Linked DNA regions of Homo sapiens. The protein of the gene in region 1 purifies or fractionates together with the protein of each later gene. This does not show direct contact. Each region holds a gene or a part of one and is shown in the gene's direction. Other genes may lie near its edges. The genes, in order: SEC24A and SEC16A.

Region 1 (14,984 bases):
AATCTCTTGAACCCGAGAGGTGGAGGTTGCAGTGAGCCGAGATCACACCACAGTACTCCAGCCTGGGTGACAGAGTAAGACTCAGTCTCAAAAAAAAGAGTATCAAAATGATGAGGCATTGTCTCATTGGTTGCCACAGTATTACTTTGAAAATCAAGTTACATTAAATATTTAAATAAGAAAAAAAAATTTTTTTTTTTTGAGAGGGAGTTTCATTCTTGTTGCCCAGGCTGGAGTGCAATGGTGCGATCTCGGCTCACCGCAACCTCCGCCTCCTGGGTTCAAGTGATTCTCCTGCCTCAGCTTCCCGAGTAGCTGGGATTACAGGCATGCGCCACCCCACCCAGCTAATTTTGTATTTTTAGTAGAGATGGGGTTTCTCCATGTTGGTCAGGCTGGTCTCGAACTCCTGACCTCAGGTGATCCTCCTGCCTCACCCTCCCAAAGTGCTGGCATTACAGGCGTGAGCCACTGTGCCCGGCAGAAAAAAATTTTTATTTATTTATTTTTTTGAGATGGAGTCTCACTCTGTCTGCCAGGCTGGAGTGCAGTGGCACGATCTTGGCTCACTGCAACCTCCGCTCCCGGGTTCACGCCATTCTCCTGCCTCAGCCTCCCGAGTAGCTGGGACTACAGGCGCCTGCCACCACGCCCGGCTAATTTTTTTTGTATTTTTAGTAGAGACGAGGTTTCACTGTGTTAGCCAGGATGGTCTCGATCTCCTGACCTTGTGATCCGCCTGCCTCAGCCTCCCAAAGTGCTAGGATTACAGGCATGAGCCACTGCGCCCGGCCCCAGAAAAAAAAAACTTTTAAGAGATAGAGTTTACTCTGTCACACAGGCTGGAATGCAGAGGTGCAGGAGGCTACAGCTGCAGCCTCCTGGTCTGGAACTACAGGTGTGTACCACCACACCTGGCTAATATTTTATTTTATTTATTTTTGAGACATAAGTCTCACTCTTGCTGAGGCTGGAGTTCTGTTTTCCAGGCTGGAGTGCAGTGGAAGGATCTTGGCCCACTGCAGCTTCCGCCTCCCAGGTTCAAGCGATTCTTGTGCCTCAGTCTCCTGAGTAGCTGAGATTACAGGCATGTGCCACCACAACCAGCTAATTTTTGTATTTTCAGTAGATACAGGGTTTTCCCATGTTGCCCAGGCTGGTGTGAACTCCTGAGCTCAAGTGATCTGCCTGCCTTGGCTCCCAAAGTGCTGGGATTACAGGTGTAAGCGTCCACGCCTTGCCTACATTTTTTTAACAACTAAAAATAATTCACAATATGCCCAGTGTTTTTGTTTCTCCTAAAAGTTTTACTGTGGTTTTCTGTTACAAATTCATGGCTAAAATCATGTTGGTCTTGAGAACTGGAAAGAAGTTACTGACTTTAAACCATTAAATGTATCTACTTCGTGTTAATACAGCTATTGAAGTTAGCAGTTTTGTACTTAGGTGCTAGAGGTTAATGCTATTCACTGAATTAAGTGTCTTCTATTCCTGAATTAGAGCTCATACTTAGTAGAGGTAACTAGAAATAAATATTTAGTTCTCATAAACAGATGTCCCTGGCATTTGTCTTTAATCCTGTATAATTTTGGGAGAAGAGATGTTAAGATTTTAATTCTATTTTAGTGGTTGTCCTCTGGACTTAAAGCAGTTGTTCTAATTCATTTATGTCATCTTCAAATTAATTTGGATTCCACTCTCATTGTTAGATATTTTGAAAATAAGGGCTGGGCACGGTGGCTCATGCCTGTAATCCCAGCACTTTGGGAGGCCAAGGCACGCGGATCACGAGGCCAGGAGTTTGAGACCATCCTGGCCAACATGGTGAACCCCTGTCTCTACTAAAATACAAAAACATTAGCCAGGCGTGGTGACGGGCACATGTAGTCCCAGCTACATGGGAGGCTGAGGCAGGAGAATCCCTTGAACCCAGGAGGTGGAGGTTGCTGTGAGCTGAAATCGCACCACTTCACTCCAGCCTGGGCAACAGAGTGAGACTCCATCTCAAAAAAAAAGAAAAGAAAAGAAAGTAAGGTCTTTGCTCCTCATAATTTTACTTTCTTTTTTTGTTTGTTTTTTTGAGATGGAGTTTCGCTCTGTCGCCCAGGCTGGAGTGCAGTGGCACGATTTTGGCTCACAGCAACCTCTGCCTCTCAGGTTCAAGGAATTCCCTGTCTCAGCCTCCCGAGTAGCTGATTACAGGCATGTGCTGATTACAGGCACGCGCCACCACACCCAGCTAATTTTTTTTGTATTTTTAGTAGAGACGGGGTTTCCCCATGTTGGCCAGGCTGATCTCTGACTCCTGACCTCGTGATCCGCCCGCCTTGGCCTCCCAAAGTGCTGGGATTACAGGCGTGAGCCACCGCACCTGGCCTCTTTTTCTTTAGGTAGTTTTGATTTTGATAATTTTTTTTCATTGTGTACTGCTCCTTAGAGGTTTTTAATGCAGCTCTCACAACTGCTGAAATCTTTCAGATGGTATATAATTTTATAAACTTCATAAAGAACCATCTTTTGCTAGAAGTTATTTTGCTGGAGTAGGTTTTGAAAAAGCCTTGTTATTTGGGCCTTTGGCTTAGGTACAATGTAAGGTGAAAAAAGACTCTTTCCAAAGACTCATGTTTCCTTTCCCTGAAGTTGCAGCTAAATTACTTGAAACTATCGTATATGTAAAAACTTGGATTTTTTATGTTGTTAATAGGCTGTGGTTTTAAATTATTTGTTGTTTAGAAAATTATTTAAAATTTTGGATATTAGTTAAAATCATACAGAGATTGTAATAATCATTCTAATTAAAATCTTGTTGATGAACTTCCTTCTTAGGTATTACATCAAATACCAATAACGGATCTATGGTGGTCCACAGTAGTTACGACGAGATTGAAGGAGGTGGCTTATTGGGTGAGATGCTATGAAAGTTTTTTTTTTAATCTCTTTTTTCTGATTATAGAAATAATATGTGGTAATTGTACAAATATATAGGAAACTAAGAGGGAAACTTCATAATCATGTAGCCATACATACTATTAACTTATTTATTTATTTATTTGGACACAGGGTCTCACTCTGTCGCTCAGGCTGGAGTGCAGTGGTGCGATCATGGCTCACTGCAGCCTCAGTCTCCTGGGCTCAAGCAGTCCTCCCACCTCAGCCTCCTGAGTAGCTGGGACCATAGCCACGTGTCACCATGCCCAGCTTTTTGTTTTTGTTTTTGTTTTTTGAGACTGAGTCTCGCTCTGTTGCTTAGGCTGGAGTGCAGTGGCAGTATCTCGGTTCACTGCAGCCTCTGCCTCCTGGGTTCAAGTGATTCTCCCACTTAAGCCTCCCAGTTAGCTGGTATTAGAGGCACCCGCCACCACACCCTGCTGATTTTTGTATTTTTAGTAGAGACAGGGTTTCACCATGTTGGCCAGGCTGTCCTCTAACTCCTGACCTCAAGTGATCTGCCCGCCTCGGCCTCCCAAAGTGCTGGGATTATAGGCATGAGCCACCATGCCCAGGCCCTGGCTAATTTTTGTATTTTTTGTAGAGGCAGGGTTTCACCATGTTACCCAGGCTGGTCTTGAATTCCTGGGCTCAAGCGATCTGCCCATTTTGCCTCCCAAAGTGCTGGGATAATAGGCATGTGCCATAACATCTGGCTCTATTATTTAACATTTTTTATTTCTATGCATTAGATTTTTTGTTAAGTTTTTCTTCTGTCAGAATTGGGATCATGGATTTATTATTATTATGTTTTGACTATAGAGTACTTTTAGGATTTTTTTTTTTTGAGACAGGGTCTCTGTCACCCAGGCTCAAGTGCAGTAGCACTGTTATAGCTCACTGTAGCCTCAAACTCCTGGGCTCGTGCGATCTTCTACCTCACCCTCCCTGAGTAGCAGGGACTATAGGCATATGGTACCATGCCAGGCTAGTTTTTTTATTTTTGTAGAGATGGGGGGGTGGGTCTCAATATATTGCCTGGGCTGGTCTCGAACCCTTGGCTTGAAGAGATCCCTCCTGCCTTGGTTCCCCGATTTGCTGGGATTACAGGTGTGAACCATCTCACACGGCCCATTTAGGATTTTTTTTTTTTTTTTTTTTCTGAGATGGATTCTTGCTGTGTCGCCCAGATTGGAGTGCAGTTGTGTGATCTTGGCTCACTGCAACCTCCAACTCCCTGGTTCAAGCGATTCTCCTGCCTCAGCTTCCCGAGTAGCTGGGATTACAGGCACGTGCCACCACGCCCAGTTAATTTTTGTATTTTTAGTAGAGATAGGGTTTAACCACGTTGGCCAGGATAGTCTCGATCTCCTGACCTTGTGATCCACCTACCTCGGCCTCCCAAAGTGCTGGGATTACAGGTATGAGCCACCTCGCCCTGCCAGGATGTTATAATTAAAGTTGTTTTGAATTAAAATTTTAGTCTGAATACAAAATTTAGTACATGATATGAAAGTAAATTAACTGTTCTTTTGTTTTGTTGTTTTTGTTTTTGTTTTTGTTTTTGTTTTTGAGACAGTTTCCCTCTGTCGTCCAGGCTGGAGTGCAGTGGGCACAATCTCGGCTCACCTCCACCTCCTGGATTCAAGCAGTTCTACCACCTCAGCCTCTCAAGTAGCTGGAACTACAGGCACATGCCACCACATCTGGGTAATTTTTGTACTTTTTAGTAGTGATGGGATTTCACTGTGTTGGCCAGGCTGGTCTCCAACTCCTGACCTCAAAGTGATCCACCCACCTCAGCCTCCCAAAGTGCTGGGATTACAGGCATGAGTCACCACACCCAGCCGACATGAAAGTAAATTAACTGTGCAAACTAGTTTTTGTGTCTACTACTATAGTATAAAATATTAACTAGTGTAAATCCATTAACAAGATTTTTGGCCGGGCACGGTGGCTCATGGCCTGTAATCCTATCTTCGGGAGGCCAAGGCAGGCAGATCACCTGAGGTCAGGAGTTTGAGACCAGTCTGACCAACGTAGTAAAACCCCATCTCTACTAAAAATACAAAAATTAGGTGGTGTGGTGGCACACACCTGTAGTCCCAGCTACTCGAGAGGCTGAAGCAGGAAAATCGCTTGAACCCGGGAGGTAGAGGTTGCAGTGAGCCAAGGTTGTGTCACTGCATTCCAGCCTGGGCGACAGAGTGAGACTCCATCTCGAAAAATAAAATGATAAATAAAATAAAATAAATAGATTTTAGTCATTGCTATTTGTTACTGGTGTTTGTCTTATTTTAAAAATTTGATAAATGAAAGTATTAAATTATCCAAAGAATTTTGGAGTTATAATACCTATAACTTATTAGATTTATGTGTTGATTTAAAGCATTCTGGGCCAGGCATGGTGGCCTACGCCTGTAATCCCAGCCTGGACAACATGGTGAAGTCCCGTCTCTACAAAACATACAAAAACATTAGCCGGGCATGATGGCACACACCAGTCATTCCAGCTACTTGGGAGGCTGACACAGGAGGATCACTTGAACCTAGGAGGTTAAGGCTGCAGTGAGGTGTGATTGCACCACTGCACTGCAGCCTGGGCAATAGTGAGACCCTTTCTCCAAAAAAAATGTTTTTTTAAAATAAATAAATCAAGTATTCTGGAGTATAAAATAGAACTTAAAAGTTACCTTGTTTCTAGCAACACCACAGCTTACTAACAAGAATCCCAAAATGAGCCGAAGTGTTGGATATTCATATCCCTCCTTACCACCTGGTTATCAGAACACAACACCACCTGGTGCAACTGGAGTACCACCCTCTTCCTTGAATTACCCAAGTGGGCCACAAGCCTTTACTCAGGTAAACTTTTTGGGATTTTCTTTAACCTATTTCTCCATTTGGTTTAAACTGTATACACATGAAGAAAGTTTTAGGAAGGTATATTATACATTTTTATAACCATTTAGAATAATAATGGATATTTCATAAAGCCTTTGTCTTTATACATTTTTCCAGAACCAAAAGATTGGCCAAGAGATCTAGATTACACTTTTGTTATTTACAGAGAAATTAACCACTTCCCTACACACTTAATAAAAGTTACTTACTTTAAAATTATGTATCTGTAGACTCCCTTAGGTGCTAATCATTTAACCACAAGCATGAGTGGATTAAGTCTACAACCAGAGGGTCTAAGAGTTGTCAATCTTCTTCAAGAAAGAAACATGCTTCCGTCAACACCTTTGAAGCCTCCAGTTCCAAATTTGCATGAAGACATCCAGAAACTCAACTGTAACCCAGAGTAAGGCTTCAGATGTGACATTATGCATGTCCGAAAAGTTTTCTAGCTTTTTGCAGGGGGCACATCAGGTGTTATGAATAAGCTGTACAAATTATTAATTTATGAAAGTTCTGGATACAGATGATAGAACTCTTTTACTTGTTTACTTAATAGAGATTTGAAAAGTCCTACGTCAAGAAATAGGGATGTAACTCCTGAAGTGATTTTGTTCTTATCAGCTCTAATGAGATTATGATATTCATTATCATTATGGTGGTTACTTTCTTTCTTCAAAATCCAAAGTACAGGGATTTGTTTCTACATAATCCTTTATTTGCTCTCATTTAAAATTAATTTCATAACAAACATAATACCTTTTTTTCCTAAAAACTTACCATAAGCTTAAATGTATATGATCAATAATTTCTGATAAATTAAATTTGGTACCTTTAAATTGTATTTAGAATCTTCAGCAAAACTGAACTTTTAAATAATAGACTTTGCAATTTGGGCCATCACCTAAGTTTAATTTAATTCCAGTGTCAACTAGACTTACAAAACAAAAAATAAGTCATTTGATAGTTTAGACTGTTTTACACACAAGCCAAAAAGAGACTATATTTTAGTTATAGGATAACCATCCACTCTATTTCTGCATAGGACTTAGATTTAAATATTTAAATGGGATAAAATTTTGAGACTCTATTGAAATATTTCATCTGTAATCTGATCCAGTATTAAAATGTATACCTTTTAAATCTTTGTTGTTGTTTTCTTCAAAAATAATCATAGCAGCAACTGATACATACTTTTTACTTTGATATAGGTTATTTCGATGCACGCTGACTAGCATTCCTCAGACGCAGGCCTTATTGAATAAAGCCAAACTTCCTTTGGGGCTGCTGCTTCATCCTTTCAAAGACTTAGTGGTATGTTTCTTTTCTTTTCTTTTTTTTTTTTTGAGACGGAGTCTCCCTCTGTCGCCCAGGCTGGAGTGCAGTGACGCAGTCTCAGCTTATTGCAACCTCTGCCCTCCATGTTCAAGTGATTTTCCTGCCTCAGCCTCCCTAGTAGCTGGGATTACAGGTGCCTGCCACCGTGCCTGGCTAATTTTTGTATTTTTAGTAGAGAGGGGGTTTCACCATCTTGGCCAGGCTGGTCTTGAACTCCTGACCTCGTGATCCACCTGCCTTGGCCTCCCAAAGTGCTGGAATTACAGGCGTGAGCCTCTGCGCCCGGCTCTTTTTTTTTTTTTTTTTTTTTTTCTGAGACTGGGTCTCACTGTCGCCCAGGCTGGAGTGTAGTGGCGAGATCTCGGCTCACCGCAATCTCCGCCTCCCAGGTTCGGGCAATTCTCTTGCCTCAGCTTCCTAAGTAGCTGGCATTATAGGCATCTGCCACCACACCCAGCTAATTTTTTTATTTTTAGTAGAGATGGTGTTTCACCATGTTGGCCAGACTGGTCTCGAACTGACCTCAAGTGATCTGCCCACCTCCCAAAGTGCTGGGATTTATAGGCCTGAGCCACTACACCCGGCCTCTTTAGTGAAGGTAAATGTCTTTTGTGCAAAATTATCTTGGTGATGAAAATTTTCTGCAATGATGCAAGAATTACATATAGAATTTGTTTGATCTGTCTTTAGGAAGTCGATGATTGACAGATTACTTACAATTCAACCAAAAATTTTATTACTAAACACTTTCAAATACTAGGTAAAGTAAGTATATTGCTGGAAAATTCAAAAAGTACTGAATAGAATAGAGGTACTGAGAGAAACTAAATAAATGAATCATACTATTTTAATAGGTTGTGAATTATTTACCCATTAAAGTACTTTACCCTAGTCTCCCCGTTCTGCCATCCTTGCAGTAAAATTTGTTATTTTAAAAAGTTGTTTTAAGCCAGACATGGTGGCTCATGGCCTGTAATCCCAGCACTTTTGGAGGCCAAGGTGGGAGAATTGCTTGGGTCTATGAGTTCAAGACCAGCTTAGTCCTGGCTACTCGGGAGGCTAAGGTGGGAGGATCACTTGAGCCCAGGAGGTTGAGGCTGCAGTGAGACATGATTGTACTACTGCACTCCAGCCTGGGTGGCAGAGTGAGACCCTGTATCCAAAAAGAAAAGTTATTTCAGAAGAAAAAAGAAACTGATCTACCTTTGTCCTAAAGCTCTGTGGCCACATACTCTTGAGGATTGCTGACTTTCCCAAAACACACTACTTTTGGTGATAGGATTTTTTTGGTGGTGATATAATTTTATTGCCTGTATTGATTTTTTTTTTTTTTTTTAAGAAGCAGAGTCTTAACTGCATTGCCCAGGATTGGGTATGAGATCCTTATCTTAAAAAAAAAAAATAAAGGCCAGGTGCAGTGGCTCACACCTGTAATCCTAGCACTTTGGGAGGCTGAGGCGGGCAGATCACCTGAGGTCAGGAATTCAAGACCAGCCTGGCCAACGTGGTGAAACTCGTCTCTACCAGAAATAGAAAATTTAGCCAAGCATGGTGATGCACACCTATAATCCCAGCTACTGGGGAGGCTGAGGCAAGGGAATCGCTTGAACCCGGGAGGTGGAGGTTGCAGTGAGCCAAGATCCCACACTGTACTCCAGTCTGGGCAATAGAGTGAGACTGTCTCAAAAAAAAAAAAAAAGATAAATAAAACCTTTCTTTAAAGATGAGATGCTATGTCACTTTGTTGTCCAAGGCACTGGCTCTCAGTTAAGTTGATCAGTGTTCACCTGTCTCAGGGTTTCTGGTAAATCAAAACAAATCTCCCCAAATCTGATAGTCTTACAAAGACCCTTCCCACGTATTTACTGTTATTTATTTATTTATTTATTAGAGACCGGGTCTCTCGTTGTCACCCAGGTTAGAGTGCAGTTCCATGATCATAGCTCACTGCAGCCTTGAACTCTTGGGCTCAAGCAGTCCTCCTGCCTCAGCCTCCAGACAGAGTAAGTGGTACTGTAGGCATTGGCCACTATACCCAGCTAAGACTTTAGAACTTTTAATATGTAGGATAAACTTTAACTAGGAGTGTAATTCCAAAGTTTAACTGGTTATTTAAATTAACCTCACCTTACTTTATTATAGTTGAGAACTAAGTAAGCTTCTTAATGTAACATCAACAAACTTTGTAATAGTTTCATTGGTCATATATTTTAGAATGTTGATTTTTTTTTCTTTGCCATTTATGCCAAAAGTACATTGTAAATTTACCATCTTGGTTTTATTTTTTTAACTTATTATTTATTTATTTAAAAACTCTTTTTTTTTGGTAGAGATGGGCTGTTGCTGTGTTGCTCAGGTTGGTCTCTACCTCCCAGCCTCAAGTGATCCTCCTGCTTTGGCCTTCCAAAGCACTGGGATATATATATATATATTTTTTTAATTTATTTCCAAGATGGAGTCTTGCTCTGTTGCCCAGGCTGGAGTACAGTGGTGTAATCTTGGCTCACTGCAACCTCTGCCTCCCAGGGTTGAAGCAATTCTCCTGCCTCAGCCTCCTGAGTAGCTGGGATTATAGGCACCTGCCACTACGCCTAGCTAATTTTTGTATTTTTAGTATAGACGAGGTTTCACCACGTTGGCCAGGCTGGTCTTGAACTCCTGACCTCGCGTTCCACCCGCCTTGGCCTCCCAAAGTGCTGGGATTACAGGCATGAGCCACCACGCCCAGCCTATTTTTATTTTTAAAATAGAGACAGGGTCTTACTTTCTTGCCCAGGTTGGTCTCAAACTCCTGGCCTCAAGTAATCTTCCTGCCTTGGCCTCCCACCAGAGTGCTGGGATTTTAGACATAGGTGTTAGCCACTGTGCCTGGCCTGCTATTTTGGTTTTGCAATATGAGTGTTTAATGAGGAAAAAAATGGTTTTTACATTTTTATTTTATTTTATTTTTTGAGACTGGGTCTTGCTCTGTTGCCCATGTTGGAGTGCAGTGGCTCAGTCATGGCTCACTGCAGCCTTGACCTCCCAGGCTCAAGTGATGCTCCCACTTCAACCCAGCTCACCACACTGGGCTAATTTTTTAAATCTTTTGAGAGGGTCATGTTTCACTATGTTGCCCAGGCCGGTCTCAAACTCCTGGCCTCAAGCAATCCTTCCGCCTTGGCTCCCAAAGTGCTGGAGTTACACATGTGAGCCACTGTCCCCAGCCAATAATTTTTTTTTTTAAGACAACTTTTAATGAGAATGGTCTTGGAGCAAAATAGTAGGGTTTAAAATTAATACATTTCAACTACATGGTTTTTGTGTATGGCAGTTTAGATACATCTTGTACTCTAAGTTTTCTCTAAAATGATAATATCCCAACAGTTATTTAGACAGGATGGATTCATGCTTATGTTTTCAACATGATGATTTTTGCCTTTAAAAATTTAATTCTGTTTTTTTTTTTCCAGCAATTGCCTGTGGTTACCTCCAGTACAATTGTGAGATGCCGTTCATGCAGGACGTACATCAATCCTTTCGTCAGCTTTCTTGATCAAAGGAGATGGAAGTGTAACTTATGTTATCGAGTCAATGATGGTATGGGATGCTTTTTTGAAACATTTAAACGTTTCTACTTGCATTGTAGGGAAATCAGATGATACAAATGCACAGTTAAAAAAAAAAAACCCTTTTATTTACCTCTAGTCAATCCTTCCACTCAGAGAAAACTACAGGTAACTTTTTTCTGTGCGTTTATATTTATAAATAAATTTAATTATTTATTTTTTAAGCAAAAAATAATGATAGTATTACATGGATATCCCATTTTTACATTGTATTGGGTATATAATAAGTGGTATATTTCATGGTATTACTTAAGCCAGGAATTTAAGAAACATTTTTATTTAGAAATTGTCCCACGCCTTTTCTCTAGGGTGAAAGAAAATAAGTCCACAGAATAGCTGCCCAATTCATTCACTGCTGAATGAAGGGAAGTAGGCAGTGCTAGAAGGTTAGTTGAATGTAGTTTTCTCAGTAATTGAGGAGGAGGAGATTTCTCTCAATAACTATGTCACAGTTTTTATTTGAGGACTATAATGTAATCAACAGGGTTCTGTTAGTATTAGAGAAGGAAGTGGGTATGCCAGTATCCACAGTGTCTATTTGAAAGATTTGAGAAATAGAGGAATATAAGAGTTTTGTTTTTGTTTTTGTTTTTGAGATGGAGTCTCACTCTGTTGCCCAGGCTTGAGTGCAGTGGCACGATCTTGGCTCACTGCAACCTCCGCCTCCCAGGTTCAAGCGATTCTCCTGCCTCAGCCTCCTGAGTAGCTGGAATTACAGGCATCCACCACCACGGCCGGCTAATTTTTATATTTTTAGTAGGGGTGGAGTTTCACCGTTTTGGCCAGGCTGGTCTAGAACTCCTGACCTCAAGTGATCTGCCCACCTCAGGCTCCCAAAGTGCTGGGATTAACAGGCATGAGCCACTGCACCCGGCCAAGAGTTTGTTTTTGTTTGTTTGTTTTTGAGACAGAGTCTGGCTCTGTCGCCAGGCTGGAGTGTAGTGGCATGATCTCAGCTCACTGAAACCTCTCTGCCTCCCAGGTTCAAGCAATTCTCCTGCCTCAGCCTCCCGAGAACACACCCAGCCCTGGCCAAGAGTTTTTAAAAACCAGTTTTATTGGATGGGCACGGTGGCTTACGCCTCTAATCTCAGCACTTTGGGAGGCCGAGGCGGTGGATCACCTGAGGTCAGGAGTTCGAGATCAGTGTGGCCAACACAGTGAAACCCCATCTTTACTAAAAATACAATAATTAGCCGGGTGTGGTGGCGGGCACCTATAATCCCAGCTACTCGGGAGGCTGAGGCAGGAGAATCGCTTGAACCCAGGAAGCAAAGGTTTCAGTGAGCCGAAATCGAGTCATTGCACTCCAGCCTGGGCGACAGAGCGAGACTCTGTCTCAAAAACAAACAAAACAGAGCCAGGTGCAGTGGCTCATGCCTGTAATCCCAACACTTTGGGAGGCTGAGGTGGGTGGATCACCTAAGGTCAGGAGTTTGAGACCAGCCTGGCCAATGTAGTGAAACCCCATCTTTACTAAAAATATAAAAAAATTAGCTGGGTGTGGTGGCGGGCACCTGTAATCCCAGCTACTCGGGAGGCTGAGGCAGGAGAATCGCTTGAACCCGGGAGGCGGAGGTTGCAGTGAACCGAGATTGCACCATTGCACTCCAGCCTTGGCAACAAGAGCAAAACTCCATCTCAAACAAACAAATAAAACAAAACAAAAAAACAGTTTTATTGTTTGTGTGTGTGTGTGTGTGTGTGTGTGTGTGTGTGTGTTTTGAGTATAGAAAAGTAAGGATAGGCTAAGAACTTTCTCTTGCACTGTAACAATTCTGAAAATGTACATGAAGTATTTAGTTACCTTTAAAATTTTTATGTGTAGGTGCTTTAATATACAAAATGAAATTATAATAAAAGTTGAAGCCCCTTTCATCTGCAAACCAGGCTATTTCCTGAACTATAGCTTAACCTTTAGAGTGCATAGGGATTTGAATTTCTAAACAATTAGTAGGAAGACAGATACAATGATAATTAATTTAGAAAATACTCTTTGACCACTAGTGTATTATAAGTGGTAGGTATGATGTTAGGTTAAGTGATGTTCCATAAAGTTCTCATTAATTAATGAAACTTACTAAACCTTATGACCTTGACCTCTGAAATTGTCTTACCATAGCTTCTAGTGCCAGCTAGTGTCTGTACATTTCATATGTGAAATGTTAATATCCTTGTATAATTGGGAAGTTTAAGAAAATAGGCCGGGTGTGGTGGCTCACATCTGTAATCCCAGCACTTTGGGAGGCCAAGGCGGGCGGATCACCTGAGGTTGGGAGTTCGAGACCAGCCTGACCAACATGGAGAAACCCCGTCTGTACTAAAAATACAAAAAATTAGCCGGGCGTGGTGGCGCATGCCTGTAATCCTAGCTACTCGGGAGGCTGAGGCAGGAGAATCGCTTGAACCTAGGAGGTGGAGGTTGCAGTGAGCTGACATTGCACCACTGCACTCCAGCCTGGGCAACAGAGTGAAACTCTGTCTCAAAAAAAAAAAAGAAAATAATTGACATTTAATGAATGTTTGTCATCTTTTCAAGGAAGAAAGTGGCCAAATGCAAAATACATTAAATTCTTTTCAGTTTTTTCAATATGTGTATTGTTAACTTTATATAGTTCCTGAAGAATTCTTGTACAACCCTTTGACCAGAGTTTATGGAGAACCTCACAGAAGACCAGAAGTTCAAAATGCTACTATTGAGTTTATGGCTCCTTCAGAATACATGGTAAACTTTTATTTTTTGATACAGTATACCCATTTTTTATTACCAGGTTTTAAGTAAAACAATACAGCATCCTGTAACAAAATTTTATTTTATTTTATTTTGAGACAGAGTTTCACTCTCATTGCCCATGCTGGAGTGCAGTGGTGCAGTGGCAGGTTCAAGGCTCACTGCAGCCTCGACCTCCCGTGCTCAAGTGATCCTCCCACCTCAGCCTCCTGAGTAGCTGGGGCTATAGGCACGCACCACCACACCTGGCTTATTTTTATTAGAGACAGAGTTTTGCTATGTTGCCCAGGCTGGTCTCGAATTCCTGGGCTCGAGTGATCTGCCCACCTTGGCCTCCCAAAGTGCTGGGATTACAGGTGTGAGCCGCTGTGCCCAGCCAAAATTTTATGTTTTTAAATGTGTAAAAGTGTAATACTTGTTTATTACTAAAGTAATTAATATATAAGGGTATATTTGAAAGGTAAAAGTTTATGTAAAGTCCCATTTAAGTGTCTTATGTGACATTCAGAAATTTCCAATATGATATTGGGCTCGTATTTACTTTTTTTTTTTGAGACGGAGTCTCACTCTGTCACCCAGGCTGGAGTGCAGTGCTGTGATCTTGGCTCACTGCAACCTCCGCCTCCCGGGTTCAAGCAATTCTCCTGCCTCAGCCTCCTGAGTAGCTGGGATTATAGGCGCGAGCCAACACCTGGCTAATTTTTGAGTTTTTAATAGAGACGGGGTTTCACCATGTTGGTCAGGCTGGTCTCAAACTCCTGACCTTGTGATCCTCCCACCTCGGCCTCCCAGAGTGCTGGGATTACAGGCATGAGCCACCGTGCCCGGCCAGCTCATATTTACTTATAAGTTACAGTCAGTTTTTTTTTCCCTATTGCTTCATTTTTCCTTCATACAAATTTTTTTTCTATTAGAAATAATGCTGTGATGAAGATCCTCTTGCAAATATTGTTCTTTTCTACACCCGTGAGAATATCTGAGGTCTTGCATTTTAAAACTAATTACTATGCCTAATTTTTTTGTTTAACGTTTATTTCTTTTAGAGAGGAGGGTCTTACTTTGTTGCTGAAGCTAAAGTGCAGTGGCACTATCATAGCTCACTGTAGCCTCAACTTCATGGGCTCAAGCAATTCTCCTGCCTCAGCCTCCCAAGTAGCTGGGACTACAGACATGCACCACCATGCCCTGCTAATTTTTTAAAAGTTTTTTAGAGACAGAGTCTCACTATGTTGCTTAGGCTGCTTGTGAATGCCTAATGTTTAATTAGCACTTTACATTTTATAAAGCACGTACACTTTTGATCAGCACAAACAGTATTCTGAAGCAAGCTAGAAAAATGCTGTTAATCCTCTTTTACAGATATGAAAACAGACTTAGGTTAAGTGACATGCCAAATTTCACTTAGTAGTAGAACTTGCATAATAATTTAGGCCTTTTGATTTGGTTACTCTTTCACCATGCCATAATTATCTCTTGGG
Region 2 (14,984 bases), on another chromosome or scaffold:
TGAAGAATCCCATCTCTTCTCACATCTTAAAACGAAAAAAGACTGGGAGAAAGAGCCAGCGTAAACAGGGCGACGTACTGGGACGGCCCCGGCGCGCCTGGCCGGGCAGGTGGCGAGGGGCGGGGCCAAGCGGTGAGGCGGCAGACGGACGCCGGAGGGGGGCGGGGCCACGGGCGGGGAAGGACGGCCGAGGGGCGGGGCCAAAGGGGCGGGAACGACAGGATGAGGCGGAGAAAGACGGACGACGGGCGGGGCTAAGGGGGCGGGACGAAAGAATGAGGCGAGGAACGACGGAAGAGGGGCGGGGCCAAGGGGAGCGGGAACTACAGGATAAGGCGTGGAAGACGGGCGGGGGGCGGGACGAAAGAATGAGGCGGGGAAGAACGGACGCCGGCGAGGGGCGGGGGCAGAGGGGGCGGGACAGAGGGATGAGGCGGGGAGGACGGACGCCGGCGAGGGGCGGGGCCGAGGGATGGGCTGTGAAGGGCTGAAAGAGAACGCGTCTGGGCCGACGAGCCGAGGGGCGGGGCCAGGGGCGGGGCGCGCGCTGATGTCGTAAGCCGGACACGTCGGCGGCGCGGCGGCCGCGGAGACCCGAGCCGGATGTGCCAAGATGGCTGCGGCGGCTGAGGTGTCTGTGCTCGTCGCCAGCGTCGGGTGGGCTTTCGCCCGCGGCTCCTGAGGGATCGGTCTCAGCCGCGCGGGTGAGGGGGCGAGCGCGGGTGAGGGGGCGAGCGCGGGAGGAGGAAGGCGGAGGCCGGCCGGCGGAGCCAGGCCGTGGAGGTCGGGGCGCGGAGGAGAGGAGGCGGCTGGGCCCAGCCCCGAGCGGGCGGTGCATCTCGGGTCCCGCCGGGGCCGGTCGAGGGGACAGACGTCCGGGCCCCCGGGCCAGAGCGGAAGGCCGGACGCGGCGCGGGCCGCCGTGGGACTCGAGGGACTGACGTGGACCCGGCTGGGCTGCGGTGACGCCGGTTCCCGGGGCGGGAGGCTGGACCCCCAGGCACCCCTCGTAAGACTCTTAACTTTTCAAATGAGCGTGTCTTGTCCTCACCGGCTAGAAGGCTTCCTTAGCGATGCTGGTGAAGAGACACATTTACATTTGAACCAAAGAGCAGAGTTGTTTGTTTGTAATTTCTTGATTGGGCGATCAGGATGTTGCAACAGAGGCCGAGGGTTAGAGGAGTGTGTGTGATCCGGCTCGCCCCTTTGTGATGGAAGTGTTACAGTAGAGCCTTCAGAAACATCAGAGCCATTTAAAGTCAGTTTTTGCCGCTTAAGAACACTTTTAAATGGCTTGTAAGTTGGGTGTGGATTGTATATTAAGATTTTGTTTTACATGTGTGATGCCGATGTTAACCAAAGAGGTATTTCCCATCCCCCATGTGGCAATACGAAGCAAACGGAACCGCAGACGGTTCTTCCTAGAAGTGATACTTTTGCAAGTTTCAGCACAATGCAGCCTCCCTGCGTTTTTTCCTCATCCCCTTTCTTAAGTTTCAGGTGCTGGTATCTTGTAGACAAGAGGCAAAATAGCGTGTCTTTCTTGTTCCTTGTTCCTCGTTTACTGTTAATAGTGGTTACTACAGTGAGTCTCAAAATTGTACTTAAAGTTTTCTTTGAGGCAGTGGGCACTTTTTTTTTCTTTTTCTTTGTCTTTTTTTGCCAAATCCAGCAAGAGGTCATGGTAGTGGGTAAATGTTAATGTGATTTCTTCTTCTGTAAGCATCTTTCATGAATACCAGGGTCTTCGTCATTTTCATCAGTGTTAGGCTGCTGGCCTCCTCTGTCGCTGGCTTCCTCTTCAACATCTAACTGTATGTGGTTGCGATTCTAACTTAGAAGAGTTGGAGTTGATCATGTCTTTGTGTCAAGCATCCCACAGTCTGACAGGGCGTCACTAGCAGCCACCGTGAGGGAGACTGTAGGCAGTAGGTAAACTCAGGGGCTTCCTGGCACACTATTGTTTTCCTCACTTAAAATATGAAGCCAGTGGCAGCAAGAGGAGAGGGGTGTGCATGCATTTTAAATGCCTCAGTTCTGTAGCCAGAACTGTACTAAAAAGAGTTTTGCTTAGGTATCCACATGGTTACAAGGCAGTTTAACTGACTAGCTAGGTTTATGAATACTGCATTTTCAAGATCAGCTGGCCTCTTTGGAACAATAAAAGAATTAGATGACTTGAGGTTACAGAATAAAATTCCCTGGGCCGGGCGCGGTGGCTCATGCCTGTAATCCCAGCACTCTGGGAGGCTGAGGCGGGCGGATCACGAGGTCAGGAGATCGAGACCATCCTGGCTAACACGGTGAAACCCCGTCTCTACTGAAAATACAAAAAAAAATTAGCCGGGCGAGGTGGCGGGCGCCTGTAGTCCCAGCTACGCTGGAGGCTGAGGCAGGAGAATGGCGTGAACCCCGGGGGGCGGAGCCTGCAGTGAGCCGAGATCGCGCCACTGCACTCCAGCCTGGGTGAAAGAGCAAGACTCCGTCTCAAAAAAAAAAAAAAAAAAAAAAAGAATAAAATTCCCTGTAGTGGTGACATAGGTGATAGGCAGTTGCATTGTTTTTCTCCTGGTGAGTAGAGAAAAAGATCAAAAAAATCAGTTCAAGTCACAAGATTGTTCCAAATGAAAGTGGCATGTTGCTAAAAAGCTCTCAATTAGGGAGCATGAAGGTTGGAATGCTCCTTGTAAGTGATAATGTTTGCCATAAAAAAGCTCTTAGTCTAGGAGAGCTGCGGAATAATTTTTTTTTTTTTGAGACGGAGTCTCGCTCTGCCCAGGCGGGAGTGCAGTGGCGCGATCTCAGCTCACTGCAAGCTCCGCCTCCCAGGTTTACGCCATTCTCCTGCCTCAGCCTCCCGAGTAGCTGGGATTACAGGCGCCCGCCACCACGCCCGGCTAATTTTTTGTATTTTAGTAGAGACGGGGTTTCACCGTGTTAGCCAGGATGGTCTCGATCTTCTGACCTCTTGATCTGCCCGCCTCGGCCTCCCAAAGTGCTGGGATTACAGGTGTGAGCCACCGTGCCCGGCCACCCCTGTTAAACAGCAGGTGGGATTAGGACATCCCAGAATCCACTGTGAGTAGAATCTCATAAGATTAAACCCGGGTTTTTTAGGAAAAAATAATCACATCGATTCTCGCATTTTATAGACAAAAATACATTGCAGAAAGAGGAGTGGCTGCCTCGAGCCACTCACCTGGACACTCAGTTTTGCTCTCACAGCAGCAGCCAAGGAATAAACCTCTAGGCCCGTGCTCTGTGTTTAAAGCAAACAAAAGCTTTTGAGGATGATAAGGATCTTCCCGGGGAAGGCCATGTCTTGAGAGATGAGGTAGGACCCCAGTTCTGGCAGCAGAGTTTCAGGAGGTGCTTGGAAGTTTGCGTGTTCTGGCCGTGGTTGCAGGTGTCGCTGTGTCTGCTGTGGCTGTGCAGCTGGTAGGACCCAGTGGAAGATAATGCCAGTGCACAGATCAGAGGAAGATGCTCTGCCTGTTCTCCTTTCAGTCCATATAAAATAGAGCTGTGAACATTCTTTGTTTTCAGATGAGAGCCTAAAACCTCCATGAAGCCTTTGCTGCTGTTCCTAGTAAATAGCTTGACTTAAAATACATTGATCAGTGTTTTCTTCTTTTTTTTTTTGAGACAGTTTCACTCTGTCGCCCAGGCTGGAGTGTTGTGGCTTGAACAAGGCTCACTGCAGCCTCAACCTCCCTGGCTCAAGCGATCTTCCCACCTCAGCCTCCCGAGTAGTTGGGACTACAGGCACGCACCACCACGACCGGCATTTTTTTTTTGGTGATGGGGTATCGCTGTGTGTTGCCCAGGCTGGTCTCAAACTGCTGAACTCGAGTGGTCCTCCTACCTCCCAAAGTGCTCGGCTTACAGGTGTGAGCCACTGCACCTGGCCAGTGTTTTCTTCTTTTATCTGAATATCAGAAAGATTTCCAAGAGACCAAAATAATATACATCTGCAAAGATGTGTGGATTGGCCAGGCACGGTGGCTCACGCCTGTAATCCCAGCACTTTGGGAGGCCGAGGCGGGTGGATTATGAGGTCAGGAGATCAAGACCATCCTGGCTAACATGGTGAAACCCCATCTCTACTGAAAAGACAAAAAATTAGCCTGGCATGGTGGCAGGTGCCTGTAGTCCCAGCTGCTCAGGAGGCTGAGGCAGGAGAATGGCATGAACCTGGGAGGCGGAGCTTGCAGTGAGCCGAGATCGCACCACTGCACCCCAGTCTGGGCGACAGAGCAAGACTCCGTCTCAAAAAAAAAAATGTGTGGATTAAACTACAGAGTCCTCCCCTTTGGTTTAATTTTTCCTTTGATTGGCTAAACTTATCTGTTTGTTCATGAGGGTGGTGCTGACAAGAAGAAAGACTGATAGAAAGAAAAGAACTTTCCTAAAGATATAGTCCTTGAATTTTTGCCTTAAGAGGCCAGGTTAACTATTCAAGTTTGTATCTACTATGTTTTATTTAAAAACTGATGGAGGTTTTTGCCCCTTTCTTTTCTGTAAGAGGTTTCTTGGCAATTCTGCCTGTTGTTGAAAGTGTTGGAATCCAGTCTGTGCCTTGTAAAGCTGCTTTAAGTTTCCTGGGAGTTTCCATTCCAGGCACAGTTACGGCTCCAGTTCAAAGGTAACATCTTGCTGGTGGTCCTTTCAGACCTTAAGCCAGTCACAGTACAAAAACGGAGACCTATGAAGAGGTGTGATAAAAGGCATTTAGATGAATATATTTATTTTGCAGTGCTTTTTAAAAAAATGATTGTGTCACTTTTTATTTATTTATTTTTTTAAAATAGAGACCGTCTTGCTCTGTTGCCCAGGCTGGACCGCGGTGGTATAATCATAGCTCACTGCAGCCTCGAACTCATGGACACAAGTGATCTTCCTTCCTTAACCCCCTGAGTCCCTGGGACTACAGGTGTGTGCCACCATGTCTGGCTAACTTTCTTCTTTTGTAGAGACAAGGTCTTGCTATGTTGCCCAGGCTGGTCTCGACCTCCTGGGCTCTGGCAGTCCTTCCACCTTGACCTCCCAAAGTGCTGGGATTACAGGCATGAGCCACTGCACCCAGCCTATTTTGCAGCTTTTATAACTATACTTCATAATGCTCTTTCATCAAAGAAAATGGAAGAATGAATTTTAAACTTTTGTATCCCTTTTGAAATTTAAAATTAACATGTATGGAAAGTATGATATAAAGTTTTCCTTTTTTTTTTTTTTTTTTGAGCTAGGGACTCACTGTGTCACCCAGGCTGAAGGGTAGTGGTGCTGTCATAGCTCACGACAGCCTCAACCTCCCAGGCTGACGCAATCCTCCTGCCTCAGCCTCCTGAGTAGTTGGGACTACAGGTGTGCACCACCATGCCTGGCTGATTTTTGTATTTTTTGTAGAAACGAGATCCCCCTGTTGCTCAGGCTGGCCTCGAATTCCTGGGCTCAAGTGGTCCTCCCGCCTTGGCCTCTTAAAGTGTTGGGAGTACAGGCGTAAGCCACCATATCTGGCCAGTTTTTCTTTCTTAATAGAAGAGTTGGCTCTTCCTGGATCTAGGGATGGTTTACAGGAAAACATTGAGTATCTGTGGGTCTGGTAGCATATCACAGCAGTGGTCAGGTTCCGCACTGTCCCTGTTGTTGTGGCGCGGGTCTGCGGCAGCAATGGGCCCTGTGAGTAGAGGATCCCAGGGGAGGGAGTGGCCATCTAGACATACTCCATCAGCTCGCAGCCAGGCCATCCAGGGTTCTCACTCTGTCCCCTGCCCCCCAGAACAGTTCCTCAGGGACAGGTGTTCTCTGCTGGGGTGGGGTGTAGGGGAGAGAGAGTCCTTGGGATTTAAGTGACATAAAATCATGTTCAATGTTTCTCTTTTTCCTTAGTTTTCCTGATTGCAGCTAGGACTTTGAATATATGGATTTTATGCTGATTTTCTCTTTTTCTTTTCCAGCTCCAATTAAGGAACAGCTATATCCTGCTTCCTTCTGTAAGCAGCATCGACTTGTGCAAGGGTTCAGTCATGCAGCCACCGCCCCAGACGGTCCCGTCTGGCATGGCTGGGCCACCTCCAGCCGGGAATCCTCGGAGCGTGTTCTGGGCTAGCAGCCCTTACAGGAGACGGGCTAATAATAATGCAGCAGTGGCTCCGACAACTTGCCCGTTGCAGCCGGTCACGGATCCATTTGCTTTTAGTAGACAGGCGCTCCAAAGTACACCACTGGGCAGTTCGTCCAAAAGCAGTCCACCTGTCTTGCAAGGCCCAGCCCCCGCAGGGTTTTCTCAGCACCCCGGTTTGCTTGTTCCTCACACACATGCCAGAGATAGCTCTCAGGGACCCTGTGAGCCCCTGCCTGGACCTCTGACACAGCCCAGAGCACATGCCAGTCCGTTTTCTGGTGCATTGACACCTTCAGCACCTCCTGGGCCTGAGATGAACAGGAGTGCAGAGGTCGGTCCCAGTTCAGAGCCTGAAGTTCAGACTCTGCCATATCTTCCTCACTACATTCCAGGAGTGGATCCTGAAACGTCTCATGGGGGCCACCCTCATGGGAACATGCCTGGGCTCGACCGACCCCTGAGCAGGCAAAACCCACATGACGGTGTGGTCACCCCAGCAGCATCCCCTTCCCTCCCTCAGCCTGGTCTGCAGATGCCAGGACAGTGGGGGCCAGTGCAGGGAGGCCCACAGCCCTCGGGGCAACATCGTTCACCCTGCCCTGAAGGACCTGTTCCCAGCGGGGTGCCCTGTGCCACCAGCGTTCCTCATTTCCCCACCCCGTCCATCCTACATCAGGGCCCTGGTCATGAGCAACACAGCCCTCTGGTGGCTCCCCCAGCAGCCTTGCCCAGTGACGGAAGAGACGAGGTGAGCCACTTGCAAAGTGGAAGCCACCTGGCCAATAACTCTGATCCTGAAAGTACATTCAGGCAAAATCCCAGAATTGTGAATCACTGGGCAAGCCCAGAGCTCAGGCAGAATCCAGGAGTGAAGAATGAGCACCGGCCCGCCTCTGCTCTTGTGAACCCCCTCGCCCGGGGAGATAGCCCAGAAAACCGTACGCACCACCCACTGGGGGCTGGGGCCGGGTCTGGCTGTGCCCCGCTAGAAGCAGACTCAGGAGCTTCAGGAGCTCTGGCGATGTTTTTCCAAGGGGGAGAGACAGAAAATGAGGAGAATCTCTCATCTGAAAAAGCAGGCTTATCTGGTCAAGCGGACTTTGACGATTTCTGCTCCAGCCCTGGGCTAGGCCGTCCGCCCGCACCTACACACGTGGGGGCAGGCAGCCTCTGCCAGGCCCTTCTCCCAGGCCCCAGCAATGAGGCTGCTGGTGATGTGTGGGGTGACACAGCGAGCACAGGGGTGCCGGATGCCAGCGGCTCGCAGTATGAGAATGTTGAGAACTTAGAATTTGTTCAGAATCAAGAAGTTCTGCCAAGTGAGCCCCTCAATTTGGACCCTTCCTCCCCGAGTGACCAGTTCAGATATGGGCCCCTTCCTGGGCCAGCTGTGCCCAGGCATGGTGCTGTGTGCCACACCGGAGCCCCTGATGCCACACTGCATACAGTGCACCCTGACAGCGTGTCATCCAGCTATAGCAGCAGAAGCCACGGAAGGCTCTCAGGCTCAGCCAGGCCCCAGGAGCTGGTTGGCACATTCATTCAGCAAGAAGTTGGAAAACCCGAGGATGAAGCTTCAGGTAGTTTTTTTAAGCAAATCGATTCTTCTCCCGTAGGAGGTGAAACAGACGAGACCACTGTGAGCCAGAATTACCGTGGCAGCGTGTCCCAGCCCTCAACCCCGAGCCCCCCGAAACCTACAGGAATATTTCAGACAAGTGCAAATAGTTCTTTCGAACCGGTAAAATCTCACTTAGTTGGGGTAAAACCATTTGAGGCAGATCGCGCCAACGTGGTTGGTGAAGTAAGGGAGACCTGTGTCCGCCAGAAGCAGTGCAGACCAGCTGCCGCCCTGCCCGATGCTTCCCCTGGCAACCTGGAGCAGCCACCAGACAACATGGAGACCCTCTGTGCACCCCAGGTCTGTCCCCTGCCTCTTAACTCCACCACGGAAGCTGTGCACATGCTTCCGCACGCAGGGGCACCGCCCTTGGATACTGTGTATCCAGCACCCGAGAAGAGGCCTTCAGCCAGGACCCAGGGGCCCGTGAAGTGTGAGAGCCCAGCAACGACTCTGTGGGCGCAAAGTGAGCTGCCAGATTTTGGAGGCAACGTCCTTCTGGCCCCTGCAGCCCCGGCGCTTTATGTGTGTGCAAAACCTCAGCCACCTGTTGTTCAGCCTCCAGAAGAGGCGATGTCCGGGCAGCAGTCACGGAACCCAAGCTCGGCGGCCCCGGTGCAGAGCCGAGGTGGCATTGGTGCTTCTGAGAACCTTGAGAATCCTCCCAAAATGGGAGAGGAGGAGGCCCTTCAGTCCCAGGCGAGTTCTGGTTATGCAAGTTTATTATCCTCACCGCCCACTGAGTCTCTGCAGAATCCTCCAGTCTTGATTGCTCAGCCTGATCACAGCTATAATCTGGCTCAGCCCATTAACTTTTCTGTGTCCTTATCGAACTCTCATGAGAAGAATCAGTCCTGGAGAGAGGCTTTGGTGGGGGATAGACCTGCAGTCAGCAGTTGGGCTCTCGGTGGTGATTCTGGGGAGAACACTTCTTTGTCTGGGATTCCAACCAGCTCTGTCCTTAGCTTGTCTCTGCCTAGCAGTGTTGCCCAAAGTAATTTTCCACAAGGTTCTGGTGCTTCCGAAATGGTTTCTAATCAGCCTGCTAATTTGCTGGTTCAACCACCATCCCAGCCAGTTCCAGAGAACTTGGTTCCAGAAAGTCAAAAGGATCGTAAGGCAGGAAGTGCTCTTCCCGGATTTGCTAATAGCCCTGCTGGAAGCACAAGTGTGGTGTTAGTTCCACCTGCACACGGCACCCTGGTGCCTGATGGTAATAAGGCAAACCATTCCAGTCATCAGGAAGACACTTACGGAGCCCTAGACTTTACCTTAAGCAGGACTTTGGAAAATCCTGTAAACGTGTACAACCCGTCCCATTCTGACAGCCTCGCTTCTCAGCAAAGTGTTGCCAGTCATCCCAGACAATCTGGGCCTGGGGCGCCTAACCTTGACCGTTTTTATCAGCAGGTCACGAAAGATGCCCAGGGCCAGCCTGGCCTCGAAAGAGCCCAGCAGGAGCTGGTGCCACCCCAGCAACAGGCTTCTCCCCCACAACTACCCAAAGCCATGTTTTCGGAGCTGTCAAATCCAGAAAGTCTGCCCGCACAGGGACAGGCCCAGAACTCAGCACAGTCACCAGCAAGTCTGGTTCTGGTCGACGCGGGTCAGCAGCTGCCCCCTCGGCCTCCTCAGTCCTCTAGCGTGTCTCTGGTGTCCAGTGGCTCCGGCCAGGCAGCTGTGCCGTCAGAGCAGCCGTGGCCACAGCCAGTGCCTGCACTTGCCCCCGGCCCACCGCCTCAGGACCTGGCCGCCTACTACTACTACCGGCCTTTGTACGATGCCTACCAGCCTCAGTACTCTTTGCCGTACCCACCGGAGCCTGGCGCAGCCTCCCTCTATTACCAGGTAAGAGTCGAGTCGTATGTGTAACCCACTTTTCTGTCTGTGCTTTGACCAGTTGAGTCTCACTCACAGTGTATTCCTTAGTAGTGTTTGTTCGCTTGGTTCCGGGGTCACCCACAGTCCCGCAGGCGTGAGAACAGTATTCCAGTAACGCTTCCTGAGGACAGGGCTCCCGGCTCCAGAACCTACTCTCCCAAGCACAGGCCACCCTTAGTTCACACCACGCGTTAGCATCTTGAATTGCTTATAATACTTGCTTAGGATTTGAACCAGCCTCCCCAGCTTATGTGACAAAAAGAGCCCTCCATTTGCTGTCACCCCTGCTCCTGCTGGCTGTCTGCAGAAAAGTTCTGTCTTGCATGCCTTGGGAAGCTGGGCTAGCCTCTGGAAGCTTACGTCAGAAGCATTGGGTATAACCATAGTCCTTTAAATGCCCCTGGAGAATAAAAACATGGAGAGAAAATAGTTTTGGAGCATGAGCCACACGCATCAGCTAAGCGAGGCGGAGTCCCGCAAGCTGCTGTCAGCACGTGGTGGTGCGGGCAGCGGCTCGGGGACCGGCTGTGCTCGTGCAGAAGATTCTTCTGTGCCTCTTTTTCACAGGGACACCAGCTCATGAGTGACATTTGAGTTAGGTTCCGCATAATCCTGCAGTCGTTCGAAAAGTGTCTGTGTACACATTTGATCATTATCTGCTTTTCCTACCCTCTAACCCAGTTCAACATACACCGATTGGGTTCACCGATTCAGTGTCACCCCAGGTAGAAGGATTGTGTGATAGGGAATTGGAAAACCATGGTCTTGCGGTATGTAAGGCCAGTTGGAACCAGACTTGGGGCCACACAGGAAGGCCTTGCAGTCAGAAGGGGGCCCGCCCCGAGGAGCAAGGCTGCCGTGGCTTGCTGGGTACTGCCCCGGGGAATGGGGCTGGGCCTCCCCCATGGGCCTCGAGCATCATGGTTTGTGTGCGTGTGACCAGGTGCACACCTGACCCCTCAGACCTGTGTAGGTTCCAGAAGGAGCCCAGGCACTTTTTATTTCCATACAAGGACATTCAGCTCTGCTGGGAGCCCTGGGGTGGGGCTGGTGCAGAGCGACGGGAAGCCGTGGCCTCACTTCGGGTCCTTTGTCCGGTCCTCCTGCTGCGAGCCACCTCCCTCCGCAGGAGTGCACTCCTCCCGCCGTGCCTCTTGCTGTGGTGTCCGGGTGGCCAAGGATGAGTCTGTTTTGCTGTGATTTCACATTTCCTGCCAGGCAGCGGCAGCGTCGAGGCCTTGAGGCTTTGAGGCGCTTAAGCGTGAATTCTGGCGTGTGTCCGGGGCACTGCATGTCTTCAGATCCTCATGTGTCCACATGGGCCCCGTTGGGAACAATTCTGTGGCCACGAATTGGTTGGTGATGGGGCTGAAGCCTCCCGAGAATAAAGCACGGTCCGCTTTTAGAGGCTGCTCCTGGCTGGGGCTCTGTTCACTGGGACCCTGGTTCTCTGACTTAACTGAGGTGGCATCTGAAGCGGGACGCAGGGGTTGTTCAAATCATGGCATCTCCACACTGGACTTATCAGGAAGCAGAAACCTAACAGCCCCTTCCAGAAGTCGCCACAGCCCCCTGGGGTTGTCTGCTGACATGCTGGTGCCCTGGGTCCATCCAGAGGTCTCCTGAACAGGGCCAGGGCTGTGGGTCTTAGGACACCCTGCTGCCTGTGGGTGTGGCTGTGCTTTGGAGGTCTGTGTGGTTGTGTATGAGGGAAGGGCCACGCTCAGTCCTGCTGGAGAGCAGCCATCTGCGATGTTTCTAGCTCAGGCTGGTTGTTGGACGAGCTTGCTCTTGGTAGGTATCTAATGCTGCCCGCCCTCTGCAATGTTTCCAGCTCAGGCTGGCTGTTGGACGAGCTTGCTCTTGATTGGTGTCTAATCCTGCCCAAATGCTTCCTCCCACAGGATGTCTACAGCCTCTATGAGCCTCGATACAGGCCCTATGATGGTGCTGCGTCTGCTTACGCCCAGAACTACCGCTATCCCGAGCCCGAGCGGCCCAGCTCCCGAGCCAGCCACTCCTCGGAACGGCCACCTCCCAGGTGCGGCCGCGCCCACCCTGGCTGCCTCTCTGTCCTACTCAGACCCATGTCTGTGTTGCTTGCTATGGGGATAACTTAGTGACTCAAAAAGTTCTGTATTTCTGAAGAATTGTACAAACTTATCTAACATATGTTGACATTTTCTTGGTATGGACAAATTGTAGGGTGTGTTTTTAAATGAAATTAAACACTGCCCCAGGTGGTCATTAGCTGTGCTGGTCAGTTAGCATTTGGCGCCACCCCTACTGGGGCCAGACCCTGCTCAGGGCTGCAGAGAAGCAGCCTCTGACTTGTCTGTGAGCCCCTCTTGACGGGGCACGTCTGTTGGTCCGGCCATTTGCTAATGGGGTGTTCAGGCTCCCCAGAGACACGGCAGCTTTTCACCGGTCTCCGGAGGCCTGGGAGGACTGGTCACAGAGGTGACTTAATTCTTAGACCTGTCAGGCTGGCTACAGAAAGCAGGGCTTGAAAGCCTGTGTTTCCTCTTCTTTTTTTTTCTTTTAAGGCAGGTCTCACTCTGTTGTCCAAGCTGGAGTGCAATGGTGCCATCTTGGCTCACTGCAGCCTTGACCTCCTGAGCCCAAGCAATCTTCCCACTTCAACCTCCCGAGGAGCTGGGACTACAGACATGCCCCATCAAACCCAGCTAATTTTGTTCATTTTTTTTTTTGTAGAGACGAGGGTCTCACTATGTTGGCCAGGCTGGTCTCGAACTCCTGGCCTCAAGGGATCCTCCTGCCCTGGTCTCCCAAAGTGCTAGGATTACAGGCATTAGCCACTGCGCCCGGCCAGCCTATGTTTCTCCTTGACATTGCCGCCTCTGCTTGAAGGCCAGCCATTCCTCTGTTTGCCATTACAGAAGAGGGGTTTGGAAAGACCTGTGGCACTGTGGCTTCAGCTGAGTAGCCCTTTAAGCCAGGTCAGAGTCCTCCTGGGCCCTAGAGCAGAGGAGGCTGTTGTTGATTTTCATCTCCACTCAGGGAGGTGCGCAGAGCCCTGCGAGGGGTGGGCGTGGTCCTGGCCACCGCGCTAGGCTGCGCCTTCCAGGGCCTTAGCTGCACTTGCTCCTTGTGAGATCTGAGAGAGACTGTCTCACAGATAGAGCCTTCCTGCAAGGGGATATTGCTTCTTAAACTTGGTAATAGAGAAAAAGCTACTCATTAATGAAGACTTTGTACCTGCACTTGTTTTTGAAAGGTTCCTCGTGCTTATTAGAGGTTTTTAGGAGCTTACCTAAAGACAAAGGCTCTGTCTGTGAACCTCTGCCCACGCAGCTGGCCCTGGTGTACTCGGCTCCAAGGGCATGCACTGGGCGGTGTGCAGCTGGATGTTGGAGGTGCTTTGTGAAGCAGGCGGCACTGTGAGGCTTCACCTCTCTGGAGGCTGTAATTGTGAGAAAATTCCCAGGATTTGAGCTACTGTGTGTCACCCTGTCACCTGGGAAGCGGGGTTTGAAGTTAAGATCATATTCCGATTCAAAGCCTTCCAGCTCCGGGTGAGGGTGAGCAGACAGGTGTTTCCTAGAGGCCCTGAGAGGCGAGAGCACGGAGGAGAGACAGCCAGGGAGCATTCTCACTGTTCCGTTTTCCTTCTGCTGCTGGCCGCCCTGCCAGGCTCACCTAGGAACCGATTCTGAGAGGCCAGTGGTGGCTCGTGCTACGGAGAAGGCCTTTCACCAGAGGCAGGGTCAGGTCACCACAGGAGTGGCTTTGTCACCAGATCCGCAGGCTTACTCTTCCTTCCTGTGTTCGGATCCTGCGGCTGCCTTCAGCCCTGGCTTGCGCAGGCTCTGGGGAATCCTTTCTGCTCCTTCCCCCGCTTTGGTTGGGGAGCACACGTCTTGCATGTTTGTTCAGCCTCCGTGCTTGTGCGTGGCATGGACTCAACTCTCTGGGCCTGGTGTGGTCAGATCCCCGCAGGCACTGCCTGTCTTAGCCTTGTTGTTTTTGAGACTGTGTTGCTCCTGATGAATGACTGGGGTTGGAAAGGTCGGCTGAGGACACGGCGGCTCCTTGGAAACCCCAAGTCAGATAATTTCTCCAGAACCTGCTGTGGCCACTCAGGCTGTCGGTCAGCAGGGCTCGTTACTGTGGCTGAGCAGTTGGATGTAGGGGGACAAGTGGGCCGGGCCCCATGCCACCCAGCAGCAGCCCCGTCTCATGCAGAGGTGCTGCGCCAACCGAGCAGCCAACCTCAGCGGCGGGTGTGCAGCTCCCGTGATGTCTCCTGAAGGGGCGTGGGAAGGGTCACGTTTTAAAAATTAAATATTGTATGAAAATTATAAAATGCTCTTACATCCTTTCAAGAGTCTTTTTAGGTCTCACCCTTTTAGCCAGGCTGGAGTGCAGTGGTGCCGTCATAGCTCACTGTAGCCTTAAAACCTGCTGGGCTCAAGCCATCCTCCTGCCTCAGCCTCCTGCATAGCTGGGACTACAGGTGTGTGCCACCATGCCTGGCTAATTTTTTTACTGTTTTATGGAGACAGGGTCTCACTGTGTTTACCAGGCTGGCCTTTCAAGAATCTTGAAGGTACCAGAAGGTCTGATACTTGATCATTGTACTAACTTGTGCTTCTCCTGTAGTGAGAGTCAGGATCATGGCTTGGTCTACAAAACCAGCCTTTCTGGGGCACGTGTAGGAATCTGACACCACGTCAGCTCCAGGAGACCTGAGGGGGAGGTGGGGCCATTAGAATCCCGCTCCAGGAGCACACACACGGGCTCTGACGGGGGTACCCTGCACGGGTACAGGGAGTACCAACAGCCAGTGGTCTGGGGTCGAGGCTGTGAAACTGGCATTTTAGGTTGGTTTGAATGGCTCAGTGAGACCGGGCACTGTGGGTCACTCCTGCAATCCCAGCACTTTAGGAGGCTGAGGTGGGTGGATCGCTTGACCCCAGGTGTTCGAGACCAGCCTCGGCAACATGGTGAAACCCCATGTCTATGAAAAATATAAAAAATTAGCCAGGTGTGGTAGCGCGTGCCTGTAGTCCCAGCTACTCAGAAGCTGAGGTGGGAGGATTGCTTGAGCCTGGGAGGTGGAGGTTGTGTTAAGCTGAGATCATGTCACTGCACTCCAGCCTATGCGACAGAGTGAAACCTGTCTCAAGAAAAAAAAAGAAAGCTCAGTCCATTTTGTCCTCTACTGAGCATAATATCAAAAATTCTAGGACTTATTTTAGCATTGACTTTTATAGGCTACAGCAATGAGAACACAAAAAGGGTCAGTTCTTTTTAGCCGAACGGCTCTTAGTTATTTTACCAAGATGAATTTGAATTAGCCGTATGGTGGGAAATTCCACAGTCTCATCCTTGCTA

What was found.
Region 2: the proteins of SEC24A (region 1) and SEC16A purify together in Homo sapiens (affinity purification with western blotting; 2 studies listed by BioGRID and IntAct, with this or other methods). This does not show direct contact.

Annotation. Positions count from the first base shown.
Region 1 is NC_000005.10:134,668,983-134,683,966, forward strand, and holds part of SEC24A (protein transport protein Sec24A), read left to right. Parts: intron 1-2,826; coding exon 2,827-2,904; intron 2,905-5,632; coding exon 5,633-5,793; intron 5,794-6,062; coding exon 6,063-6,235; intron 6,236-7,040; coding exon 7,041-7,143; intron 7,144-10,619; coding exon 10,620-10,746; intron 10,747-13,390; coding exon 13,391-13,500; intron 13,501-14,984. UniProt on the Homo sapiens protein: Component of the coat protein complex II (COPII) which promotes the formation of transport vesicles from the endoplasmic reticulum (ER).
Region 2 is NC_000009.12:136,468,658-136,483,641, reverse strand, and holds the start of SEC16A (protein transport protein Sec16A), read left to right. Parts: upstream 1-601; 5' UTR 602-704; intron 705-4,811; 5' UTR 4,812-4,933; intron 4,934-5,957; 5' UTR 5,958-6,026; coding exon 6,027-9,593; intron 9,594-11,530; coding exon 11,531-11,667; intron 11,668-14,984. UniProt on the Homo sapiens protein: Acts as a molecular scaffold that plays a key role in the organization of the endoplasmic reticulum exit sites (ERES), also known as transitional endoplasmic reticulum (tER).